Homo sapiens: one gene and its partners. The protein of the gene in region 3 interacts with the protein of the main gene of each other region in a pairwise test. Each region holds a gene or a part of one and is shown on either strand. Other genes may lie near its edges.

What was found.
Region 1: the proteins of TMEM120B (region 3) and APOA5 interact in binary tests that used the Homo sapiens proteins (3 or more experiments, as listed by UniProt).
Region 2: the proteins of TMEM120B (region 3) and ANKS6 interact in binary tests that used the Homo sapiens proteins (3 or more experiments, as listed by UniProt).

What each region holds. Positions count from the first base shown.
Region 1 is NC_000011.10:116,790,111-116,793,857, reverse strand, and holds the start of APOA5 (apolipoprotein A-V precursor), read left to right. Parts: upstream 1-1,978; 5' UTR 1,979-1,997; coding exon 1,998-2,046; intron 2,047-2,160; coding exon 2,161-2,272; intron 2,273-2,790; coding exon 2,791-3,730; 3' UTR 3,731-3,747. UniProt on the Homo sapiens protein: Minor apolipoprotein mainly associated with HDL and to a lesser extent with VLDL. May also be associated with chylomicrons.
Region 2 is NC_000009.12:98,775,935-98,779,681, forward strand, and holds part of ANKS6 (ankyrin repeat and SAM domain-containing protein 6), read right to left. Parts: intron 2,491-3,747; coding exon 2,292-2,490; intron 1,521-2,291; coding exon 1,471-1,520; intron 1-1,470.
Region 3 is NC_000012.12:121,771,697-121,775,443, reverse strand, and holds part of TMEM120B (transmembrane protein 120B), read right to left. Parts: intron 2,024-3,747; coding exon 1,931-2,023; intron 787-1,930; coding exon 722-786; intron 383-721; coding exon 314-382; intron 1-313. UniProt on the Homo sapiens protein: Necessary for efficient adipogenesis. Does not show ion channel activity.

The DNA of each region.
Region 1 (3,747 bases), on a different chromosome or scaffold from region 3:
GGATGTGTCTTTAAAAGGAAGGAACATGTCCTTCTCCTTTTCCTCCTTCCTGTTCCCTGGGAGGTGAACTTGGTAGCTGGAGGTGAAGCAGCTGGAACTTGGATATGAGCGTCTTGTTGATGATAATAGTGCAACAAGATAAAAGCAGCCCGAGCTGGCCTACATTTACATGAGAAGGAAATAAGACTCCATTTTGTTTAAGCTATTCTCTTGCATATATATATACACATATATATCAGCTAAGTGTAGCCATGTGACTAACTTGTGGCCAATGGGATGTCAGTATGAGTGGTAAGAGCAGTATCTTGTATATATATATGTGTATATATACACACACACATATATATACATATATGTATGCAAGAATATAAAATATACATGTGTGTGTGTATATATATACACACATATATATGTCCCTTGCAGCCAAGTCTAATTCTAACTAATACAAACTAACTCTAAAAAATGAATATATATTCACCAGGGGATAGGCTATTTCAAGCAGAGGGAAGCCTGTATAAAGGCTCAGGGAATGCCGTGGTTTTATGTGGCAGCAGATGAGACTGGAAATGAGTCAGGATGAGCCACAGTGGAGGATGAATTAAATGGGCAGGAGTGTGGTAGAAAGACCTGTTGGAGGCTATGAATGCAATCAAGGTGACAGACAACTGGTGCAATGATGGTAGTGGAAATGGAGGAGAGGGGATTGATTCAAGATGCATTTAGGACCAAGAATCGGGAGCTTGTGAACGTGTGTATGAGTACTGTAGACGGAGTGGGTGTGTCATCAGAGAAGATCTGAGCATTTGGGCTTGCTCTCCTCAGAGGCCCTGCGAGTGGAGTTCAGCTTTTCCTCATGGGGCAAATCTCACTTTCGCTCCAGTTCCTGGGGCTCAGAGTCCCTGGCCCAGATGCCTCTTGCCATCTCATCTTCACCCTGCCTGGCTTCCCTTGCTTGTTCCAGGATTGTTTCATAAAGAGGGATGTGGTTGGTCTTTAACCCTATGAATGCTGGCTGAGGATGCCTGCGGAACCTGTAGTGAAGCTTTCAGGGGCTGCTCGGGTTCTGGCTGGTAGGTGAACACTGTCCATCTTGCCGGCTGGGACACAGTGACTCTGGGTAGTTGTGTAAGAGAGGGGCCCTTGGCAGACAAACAGGTTCTTCTCTGTTGGTGGGCCAGCCAGCAGGTCAGTGGGAAGGTTAAAGGTCATGGGGTTTGGGAGAAACTGGGTGAGGAGTTCAGCCCCATCCCCCGTAAAGCTCCTGGGAAGCACTTCTCTACTGGGGCAGCCCCTGATACCAGGGCACTCATTAACCCTCTGGGTGCCAGGGAAAGGGCAGGAGGTGAGTGCTGGGAGGCAGCTGAGGTCAACTTCTTTTGAACTTCCACGTGGTATTTACTCAGAGCAATTGGTGCCAGAGGCTCAGGGCCCTGGAGTATAAAGCAGAATGTCTGCTCTCTGTGCCCAGACGTGAGCAGGTGAGCAGCTGGGGCAGAGGGATGGGGGTCACAGTCCTAAGGGAGGGCATTGCAGGTGGCCTCAGGGGAGAGCCTGGGGTGGCCCCTAAGACGTCCTCTTGGAACATTTTGGCAGAGTTGCCTCTTCGCCCTCATTATGGCTCAGTTTTTCCACCATGAAATGGGAGGGAGGGAGACAGGTGGGCAGGGGAGAGGTGGTAGAAGTGGCCTAGAGAACTGTTCCTGGGGTCTGGGACCTTTGCGAAGGGGTTAGAGCACCACGCTCCCTGCTATGTGACTGAGGTAGCAAGAGCACGCCCTCTTCCCATGTCTGAGGAAGACACCCTAGCCTCCTTGACTCACCTAGGTCAGTCCTCTTGAGCCCCAACAGCTCTGTGCTCCCCAGCCCAAGGAAGGGGTAACAGGATTTCGGGCAGTTGCCCCTGCAGAGGCCCCCTGGGCAAGTCCCCTGCGCCATGTCCCTTCGTCTCCTTCTTCCCCTAACCAGGCCTCCCTCCACCTGTCTTCTCAGAGCAGGTAATGGCAAGCATGGCTGCCGTGCTCACCTGGGCTCTGGCTCTTCTTTCAGGTGGGTCTCCGACCCTGACTTCAACGTGGGGGTGTGGGTGGAGGCTGGCCAGAGGGCCCTGTCCACCCTGGGGGAGGAGAGCCCAGGCCCTGATTACCTAGTCCCTCTCCACAGCGTTTTCGGCCACCCAGGCACGGAAAGGCTTCTGGGACTACTTCAGCCAGACCAGCGGGGACAAAGGCAGGGTGGAGCAGATCCATCAGCAGAAGATGGCTCGCGAGCCCGCGTGAGTGCCCAGGGGAAGGGGTGTAGGCGAAGGGAGGAGACAGCTGGGCCATGCCATGATGACCTGCCTCTGCTGCCTCAACCTCTGTGGCCGCTGCTGGGACAGAGGAAAGGAGCGGTGCTAGCTCTGTCTGCAGATCCCGGCCATCCTGGGCTCTTTAGCGCCCTCTGCCTGCAGCCCCCGCCTTGACAACTCCGTAGCTGTTGCCCCCTTGCTCACTGAGGCGCGGGACCTGGGATCAATCGGGAGGACGCCCGCTGCAGTCCCCAGAATCAAAGGATGATGTGGCGCATCTATGTTTCTTTGGAGAGTGTTGTAGGTCTGGATTTGTATGGGCAATGTGTTTGTGCTTCGTGCGTGAGTTGTTACTGGCCAGGGCTAGGACAAGAGCCCTCGACCCTGGGGCCAACGCCCTGCGTCCTTGGTTCCCCCAGAGGATCAGTGCGCGATGACTTGGGGACAAAGGAGATGATGGAGGCTAGCAGTCTGACGGCCTGGATATCTGTCCCCTTCTCCAGGACCCTGAAAGACAGCCTTGAGCAAGACCTCAACAATATGAACAAGTTCCTGGAAAAGCTGAGGCCTCTGAGTGGGAGCGAGGCTCCTCGGCTCCCACAGGACCCGGTGGGCATGCGGCGGCAGCTGCAGGAGGAGTTGGAGGAGGTGAAGGCTCGCCTCCAGCCCTACATGGCAGAGGCGCACGAGCTGGTGGGCTGGAATTTGGAGGGCTTGCGGCAGCAACTGAAGCCCTACACGATGGATCTGATGGAGCAGGTGGCCCTGCGCGTGCAGGAGCTGCAGGAGCAGTTGCGCGTGGTGGGGGAAGACACCAAGGCCCAGTTGCTGGGGGGCGTGGACGAGGCTTGGGCTTTGCTGCAGGGACTGCAGAGCCGCGTGGTGCACCACACCGGCCGCTTCAAAGAGCTCTTCCACCCATACGCCGAGAGCCTGGTGAGCGGCATCGGGCGCCACGTGCAGGAGCTGCACCGCAGTGTGGCTCCGCACGCCCCCGCCAGCCCCGCGCGCCTCAGTCGCTGCGTGCAGGTGCTCTCCCGGAAGCTCACGCTCAAGGCCAAGGCCCTGCACGCACGCATCCAGCAGAACCTGGACCAGCTGCGCGAAGAGCTCAGCAGAGCCTTTGCAGGCACTGGGACTGAGGAAGGGGCCGGCCCGGACCCCCAGATGCTCTCCGAGGAGGTGCGCCAGCGACTTCAGGCTTTCCGCCAGGACACCTACCTGCAGATAGCTGCCTTCACTCGCGCCATCGACCAGGAGACTGAGGAGGTCCAGCAGCAGCTGGCGCCACCTCCACCAGGCCACAGTGCCTTCGCCCCAGAGTTTCAACAAACAGACAGTGGCAAGGTTCTGAGCAAGCTGCAGGCCCGTCTGGATGACCTGTGGGAAGACATCACTCACAGCCTTCATGACCAGGGCCACAGCCATCTGGGGGACCCCTGAGGATCTACCTGCCCAGG
Region 2 (3,747 bases), on a different chromosome or scaffold from region 3:
TTGGGTCAGGACCCCTCGCTGGGCTCTAAAGTTCCTGACACTGCTGATGCCTTTTCTGGGAGCCCCCTCTGCTCCCTTGTCCTCAGCAATACTGCCCTCTGCTGGCTAGTATTAGGGTCTTAGCGCTAAAGGGACTCAAGTCCAACTTTAACCACTAAGCTCTCATGTCAGAGGAAACAAACGTGAAACCCAGAGAGGGGAGGTAACACATCCAAGTTCACACCACGGAGCTTATTCTGGGCCAGACACTATGCTAAGAACTTCCTGGGAGTGATCTTGTTTAAAAACCATAACCATGAGGGATCCCCGAAGTCAGAGACTGCAAACTGTCCCCCAGTATCTACTTTTCACATCTTAGAAATGACACCCCTAATGTTCATTTAGATGGGCACAGGACCACTTGGAACAAAGACTTCATTTCCCAGCTTCCCCACTGTGATTTAAGCAGAGTAGTTGCCAAAAACCCTTTTTTTTTTTTTTTTTAAAGACAGAATCTTGCTCTGTTGCCCAGGCTGGAGAGCAATGGCACGAGCTTGGTTCACTGCAACCTCCACCTCCCGGGTTCAAGCAATTCTCCTGCCTCAGCCTCCCGAGTATCTGGTATTACAGGCGCCCACCACCATGCCCAGCTAATTTTTGTATTTTTAGTAGAGATGAGGTTTCACCATGTTGGCCAGGCTGGTCTCAAACTCCTGACCTCACGTGATTCACCTGCCTCCGCCTCCCAAAGTGCTGGGATTACAGGCATGAGCTACTGTGCGTGGCCCCAAGAAACTTCCTTAAAGACAGCTGGCATGTGCCCATGGCTACCTCTTCTCCCCTCCTCTCTCCTGCTGGCTGGAATGAGGCCGTCATGGGCCAGAGCTCTGGCAGCCATCTTGAACCAAGAGGTGACCTGAGAAACAGAAACTACACATGGGGGACCAACAGGCAGAAAGGACTCAAGTCCCTAACTCCAATGAGCCATATACTAGTTCTGGACTTTGTTTACTTGAATGAAGTAGGCTGCTGTCTTATTTACACCATTGTTACTTGGGGATTTTCCGTTACTCACAGTTGACCCTAATCCTAATACATCTCTAAGTTACAGATGAGGAAACTGAGGCCTCCCCAGCTGGAAACATAGCCTCCTCTTTGACTCCTCTCACCCTGGTTCTCCACAGCCCAAATGGTGAGTCTTCATTTCTCATGCTGCCCATCAATTCCTACCCTCAATCCCCTGCCTCCATGAGAACAGGGCCAGGGCTGACACCCAGCGGGTGAGCACCAGCACAGCCCTCTCCACAGTTTAGAGCTGGCATCTGTTCTGACTCCTCAGTGCCAGAGCTAAGCCCACTGTTACACATTCTCATCACCAACCCTATCTGTGACCACTACAAAGACAGACAAACACCTACATCCCTCCTTGTAAATCAATCAACTGATGATTGCCGGAGACCTAAAATGCTTTTAGAAAAGCCCCACACTCACCATGGTTGTCAATAACGTGTCTTCCTTTTCTCCTCTTGTGCTCCCAGGACCTGAGAGACAAATGGAAATTTCCTGAAATGACCCCTCCACGTGTCCACAGCATAAGGATGAGTGACTGGGGCAGGCTTCAACCTGGAAAACCAACTCTCCTGGGTGCTTAAATATTTAATAATAATTGGTATTCGATATTTTAATAGAAGGAAGGCATTTAAAAGGTATATTGGAGCATGTTTTCAGCTTTTCCATAAACCACTGCCGTACTGAGTCAGACAGTGGTGCCCCCAGCTCAATAGTCTGTCTCAGACAGTGGTGCCAAAGTAGCTAATCTGGTCATGGGGAATCTGACTGTTAGAAGGGATCTTATCTATGTTCCAGTCAGTATGGGAATCTCCTTCAGCAAACTGACAAAGTTATCCAAGCTGTTGAATACCTTGAGTGACGGGGAGCTCACTACTCACACCCTCCCAGTAACTCATTTTATTTCAAGATGCTTTCAGTGTCATAGACCAATCACATTTCAGAGGTGGGGAAAACCACCTATCAAAGGCAAGAGAGAGGACGACTCCCTGTCGTCCCTCAGCAGGGAGTGTGGGACAGGAACCTGGGCCTCTTGCCACTGGCCAGCACCTTCTCATTCTATCACACTCTTGGTGGTTGTGTCCCTGCCTAAGTATCTTTTCCACCAGACCAGCCTCTATGCTCCAGTGTCCCATTCCAACATCATCTTACCCCTGACAGCAACCCAGGAGGTAGGATGAAGGGCAGAGGGTACAGGCTCAGACCATTCCAAAAATTCTACTGCACATGCAGACTTTTCTCACCATTGTCTTTGGTCACAGGGGCCGCATCAGGGAGTGCAGAGCGGCTTGTCTTGTCCTGGGGGGCAGCCCTCATTGTGGAGTCCAGAGCTGGCTCAGGCTCGTCAGAGAAAGGCAAAGGCTGGTTGCTGGACAGCCCACGGGGCAGCGTCTGCATCAGTTTGAGCTTTCGGAACCGATTGGACATTCGGTTCCACCAGGACTGCCAAAGGAACGCAGAGCAGAAGTCATGCTCCAGGAAGGGCAAGGAGACCAGGCCCAGGACCTGCCAGCCCAGAGACAGTGACTACATTCACATGTGCCTGCCCTCCCCTCTCCTGGGGCCCAGACAGACATTACTGATCAATGATAGCACCCATTCCCAATAAGCCATGGTTACTCACTAAATCTTTCCTGACCCAGCCCTTAGGCAGTCACTTCCAATAGCCTGGAGGTGGCAGTGAACCCTATTTGCCACCCCTCATCTAATCAATCTCCTCATTGCACAGATTGAGAAATGGAGACCCAGACAGGATTGCTGACTTGCTTGAGGTCTTACAGTGAGACAGGGACAGATGGACACAGAGGCAGCTCCAGATTCCTAAGCGTCTACAATAGCATAATCTCCCTCCTCCTGCTCTGGTGATAACGTGAGAGGCATCAGGATCTCTATACCAGGGCCTGGGCCAGCTGCTCCTATAGCTGAGCCTCACCTAGAGAGGACAGGCACTACCTCCTGGGAACGCTTGTAACCCATGACCACTCAGAGGTTAATGAACAGCCACGAAGGGCATCTGTGAGGGCCTGCCTGTGGAAATGGCAGTAAGAGCAGGAATGAAGGGAGCTATGAGAACAACACAGTCAGGAAGGATGCAGAGCTTGAGCCAGCAATGGACACAAAAGGAGCGCCGAGTCTGCAGCCCTCAGAAGGCGCTACCACCCCATGCAGACTGGGGAGGTCAGCAGACAAGACCAGTGTGTTGTTTTGTTTTCTCAGGCATAAAGTAAGTTTGATTTCAAACAAGTAGAGCAGGATGTGGAAGATGAGAAATCCAAAGAGAAAGTCTCAGCTTGCAGTTACAAGCAGCCACCAGAGCTTGTTTCTGGTGTTTCCAGGAAGCTGGCAGGGCCTGTGGACTGCAGGGAGACCCCAGAGTGGCATGATCAGCAAATATCCTGCACAGTAAAGCAGAGGCTGCAAACGGATTCCTTGGGAAGAGAAGTGTTTGCTTTGGCCAGCTCAGTACTACATCATGCAGAATTTTCTAAAATTCCCTGTACTTATAAATTAAGATTCCATATCAAAATCTGGATTTCTATTTTTTCCTTTAAAAAAAAAAGAGAGAGAGATCTAGTAATATGGACCCACATTCCTTTTTGAGACAAGTTCTTGTTCTGTCGCCCAGGCTGGAGTGCAGTGACGTGATCTCAGCTCACTGCAACCACAGCCTACCAGGCTCAAGCTTTTTTCTTTTTTTTT
Region 3 (3,747 bases):
GGCTTGGGCAGGGCCTGGGAAGGGCTCGATGGGGCGAACCTCCTTGGGATCCACAGATTGGGAGAGGCTCCACCCCTAGCCCTTCCAGAAGCCTCCCGCCAAGCAGGCCCCCCACAACACCCCACACCTGCCAGCCCAGCCCGCCCCAGGAACCTCCCCACAGCACACCACACACACGCACACACCCCACCCCCACATCTGCCATCCCAGCCCTCCCCAGGAATCCGCACCCCAGCATGCCACACATACACCCCATCCCTGCCACCCCAGCCCTCCCGGGAACCTCCCCCGAGCATGCCCCCACCCCCCATACCTGCCATTCTCTGCATTCCTCGTGGCTGGAGAGCTCAAACAGCGTGACGGCATTGTAGAGCTGCCAGAACTGGAGAGGAAGGCAGGCGCTGCTCACCCACCAGACTCCCCTGGCCGGCCACGTAGAAAGCCAGGGTGATGGCCAGGCCCCTCACCCAACTTTGGGTATCAACTACCCACAACACTGACAGACACCCCCAAAATGAAATGCAGGCACCCGAGGCCAGGGCAGAGCTAGGTCAGTTCTGGCTCCTGCCTTGGCATCCCTGGGCCCAGAGGCTGCCCCGGCCCCAGGATGCTGTGGGCCCCAGCATGGGGACGGATGGAGAAGGAGGGCAAGGCCTGAAGACCTTCTGTTCCTGGGGGTCAGCCCAGACAGGAGATACCCACAAACTCCAGGGGGACTCACATGGCCACAGAAGAGGAAGGGCAGGAGAAAGGTGAGGCCCCGCCACATCCAGGACTGGAACCCTTCTGTGGAGAGGAGGGAAGAAAAAGGACCCGCTGAGGGGGTCCGCTGCCCCCACAGCTCCACCAGACGCCCACCCCCAGCCACACCAGTCACCCTAAGATGAGCCAGGGACAGTCACACATGCGGGGGGTCAGCCCTCACCTGTCATAGCTGGGTGGGCATTCACTATGACAATAGCAACCCTGTCACCTGGCCTGACTGCTCTCTCTCTTCAAGCCACCAAGAGCCAGGTGACAACACACAGACACTGGGCGCTATGTTGTTACTAATTTCTTTAATCTGCACAGGGTTTTGCATTTTATAATGAATTTTCACATGCATTAGTTCTATCGAGTCTTGAGACAGGAGGACCTACTTAGGAGAGTAATTTGATGGAAATGACTATGTCAAAAGACAGCAGAGTTGGCCAGGTGCAGTGGCCCACGCCTATAATCCCAGCACGTTGGGAGGCCAAGGTGGGCAGATCACTTGAGGCCAGCAGTTTGAGACCAGCCTGGCCAACAAGGTGAAACCCCATTTCTACTAAAAATACAAAAATTAGCCGGGCGTGGTGGCACATGCCTGTAATCCCAGCTACTCAGGAGGCTGAGGCGGGAGAATCACTTGAACCCGGGAGGCGGAGGTTGCAGTGAATAGAGATCGTGCCACTGCAATGCAGCCTGGGCAAGAGTGAGACTCCGTCTCAAAAAAAAAAAAAAAAAAAAAAAAGATAGCAGAGTTGTATTAAAAACAGTTTCCCCTGAAATTCTCAATGAGGTGTCTCCTCACTTTTCTGGCTGGCACTCCTATGGCTTCAGAGTGAGGCATGTCTCCCCCGTGTACATGCATTTATATACTTATACGTGTTGGTATGTAGACATGTTACACACAAATGGCTAATTTGTGTGTGTGTATTCTAGAACACACACAAAAAAATAGACACTTCCAGAGGCTGAGACAGAGGCCCTGCCCTCGGGGCCTGGTATGCAGCTGGCCTGGCACTTGGCAGCTGAAACAGAATCCAGGATGAATTCTGGAAGGCGCTTCGGATAAAGGGCAGCGGCCTGGCTCCGCTGTATGGGAGGTGCTCGCAGGGCTGCACTCCCGGTGTGGGGAGCTGGCAGGTCCAGTACCTGCCCCGGCTCCAACCCAGGCCCAGCTACTCACCCACTGTGAGATCCAGGTGGTTCCTCTCCCCCAGGGCCCGCAGCCGGTAGAGGCAGCCCCTCTGGTAATAATATTGCAGGAACTGGACGCAGCCTGCAGGGGGAGCACAGCACCTGGGCTCAGGGCCTGGTGTCCCCGGAAGACAGGGCCACACCTCTCTGCCCCAAGCACAGGCTGATGGGTCTTTACTGGGCAGAAGCAGAAAGGGTGCCCTGGTTACAACCCTCTCCCACGCCCACACACCACAAACAGACACACACACTCTGGTCTGAACCTGCTTTAGCCCTTATCCAGAACACAGAGAGAACACAGGTATGTGAGGACCCATCTAAGCCCCAACTAGATTTGAAACTTCTGGAATTTTCCATGCAGTAGACACTCAATAGATGCTTGCTGGAATGCAAGCTATGCCAGTGCTATGTTGGGAGCTCTGTGCAATGCTAAGACACAAGACAGAGTTCCATCCAATGGGATACTTCGTTGTTGCTAAAAATGAGGTGGTAATGACATGAAAAATAGCCATGATAAACTGTTAAAAATTCAAAAGGCAGGTTATAATAGTAAAGCTCTATGTACAGAAAGGTCCCATACTTGTAAAAGATACATAATGTAATACACACATGTATATACCTATTTATGAATAAAAACTTTTGAGAGGACATAGATCTTAACTAACGTCACCTCTAGGGTGGGCTGATATACAATTTCCATTCTTGGCTTTATACATTTGTATTTGTTTGCAAGCAGGTTTTAACTTAAAATGTAGGTTGTAGTATCTGAAAAGTCAATACAGCCAGGCGTGATGGCTCATGCCTGTAATCCCAACACTTTGGGAAGCCAAGGCAGGCAGATCCCTTGAGGCCAGGAGTTCAAGACCAGCCTGGCCAACTGGTGAAATCTCATCTCTACCAAAATACAAAAAGTAACCAGGCATGGTGGCAGGCACCTGTAATCCCAGCTACTTGGCAGGAGAATCGCTTGAACCGGGAGGTGGAGGTTGCAGTGAGCCGAGATCACAACACCGCACTCCAGCCTGGGTGACAGACAGAAACTCCATCTCAAAAAAAAAAAAAAAGAAAGAAACGGTACGGCGTGGTGGCTCATGCCTGTAATCCCAACACTTTGGGTGGCAGAGGTGGGTGGACCACCTGAGGTCAGGAGTTCCAGACCACCCTGACCAACATGGTGAAATCTCATCTTTATTAAAAATAAAAAAAATTAGCTGGGCGTGGTGGTGCGCACCTGTAGTCCCAGCCACCCGGGAGGCTGAGGCAGAAGAATCGTTTGAACCCAGGAGGCGGAGGTTGCAGTGAGCCAAGATCGCGCCACTGCACTCCAGCCTGGGCAACAGAGCAAGACTCCATCAGAAAGAAAGAAAGAAAGAGAGAAAGAGAGAGAGAGAGAAAGAGAGAAAGAGAGAGAGAGAGAAAGAGAAAGAAAGAAAAAGAAAGGAAGAAAAAGAAAGAAAGAAAGAGAAAGAAAGAAAGGGAAAGAAAGGCAATACACACATGGGATAAAATTTAAAGGGAACAAACAGGTTGGTGAAAAGTAAGACGCTCTCCCTGTCCCCAAGCATTCAAGCCCCCTTCCCCAGAGGCAACCCTTGGGACCAGTATACAAATCCAGAGCAATTTTCAGATGAGAAAAATAATATATATTTCCATTTGGAGGACTTATTTAGGACTGGAAAAAAGGCTGGTATCCCCAATGCTACTCAGTTCCCAAAGGTCACAGTTGGCAGGGTTCCAGCCTGGGGAAGGAGCAGGCAGTGCTGGGGGCTGGGAGGTGGGTGGAGCTGACCTGGGGCGGGGACAGCT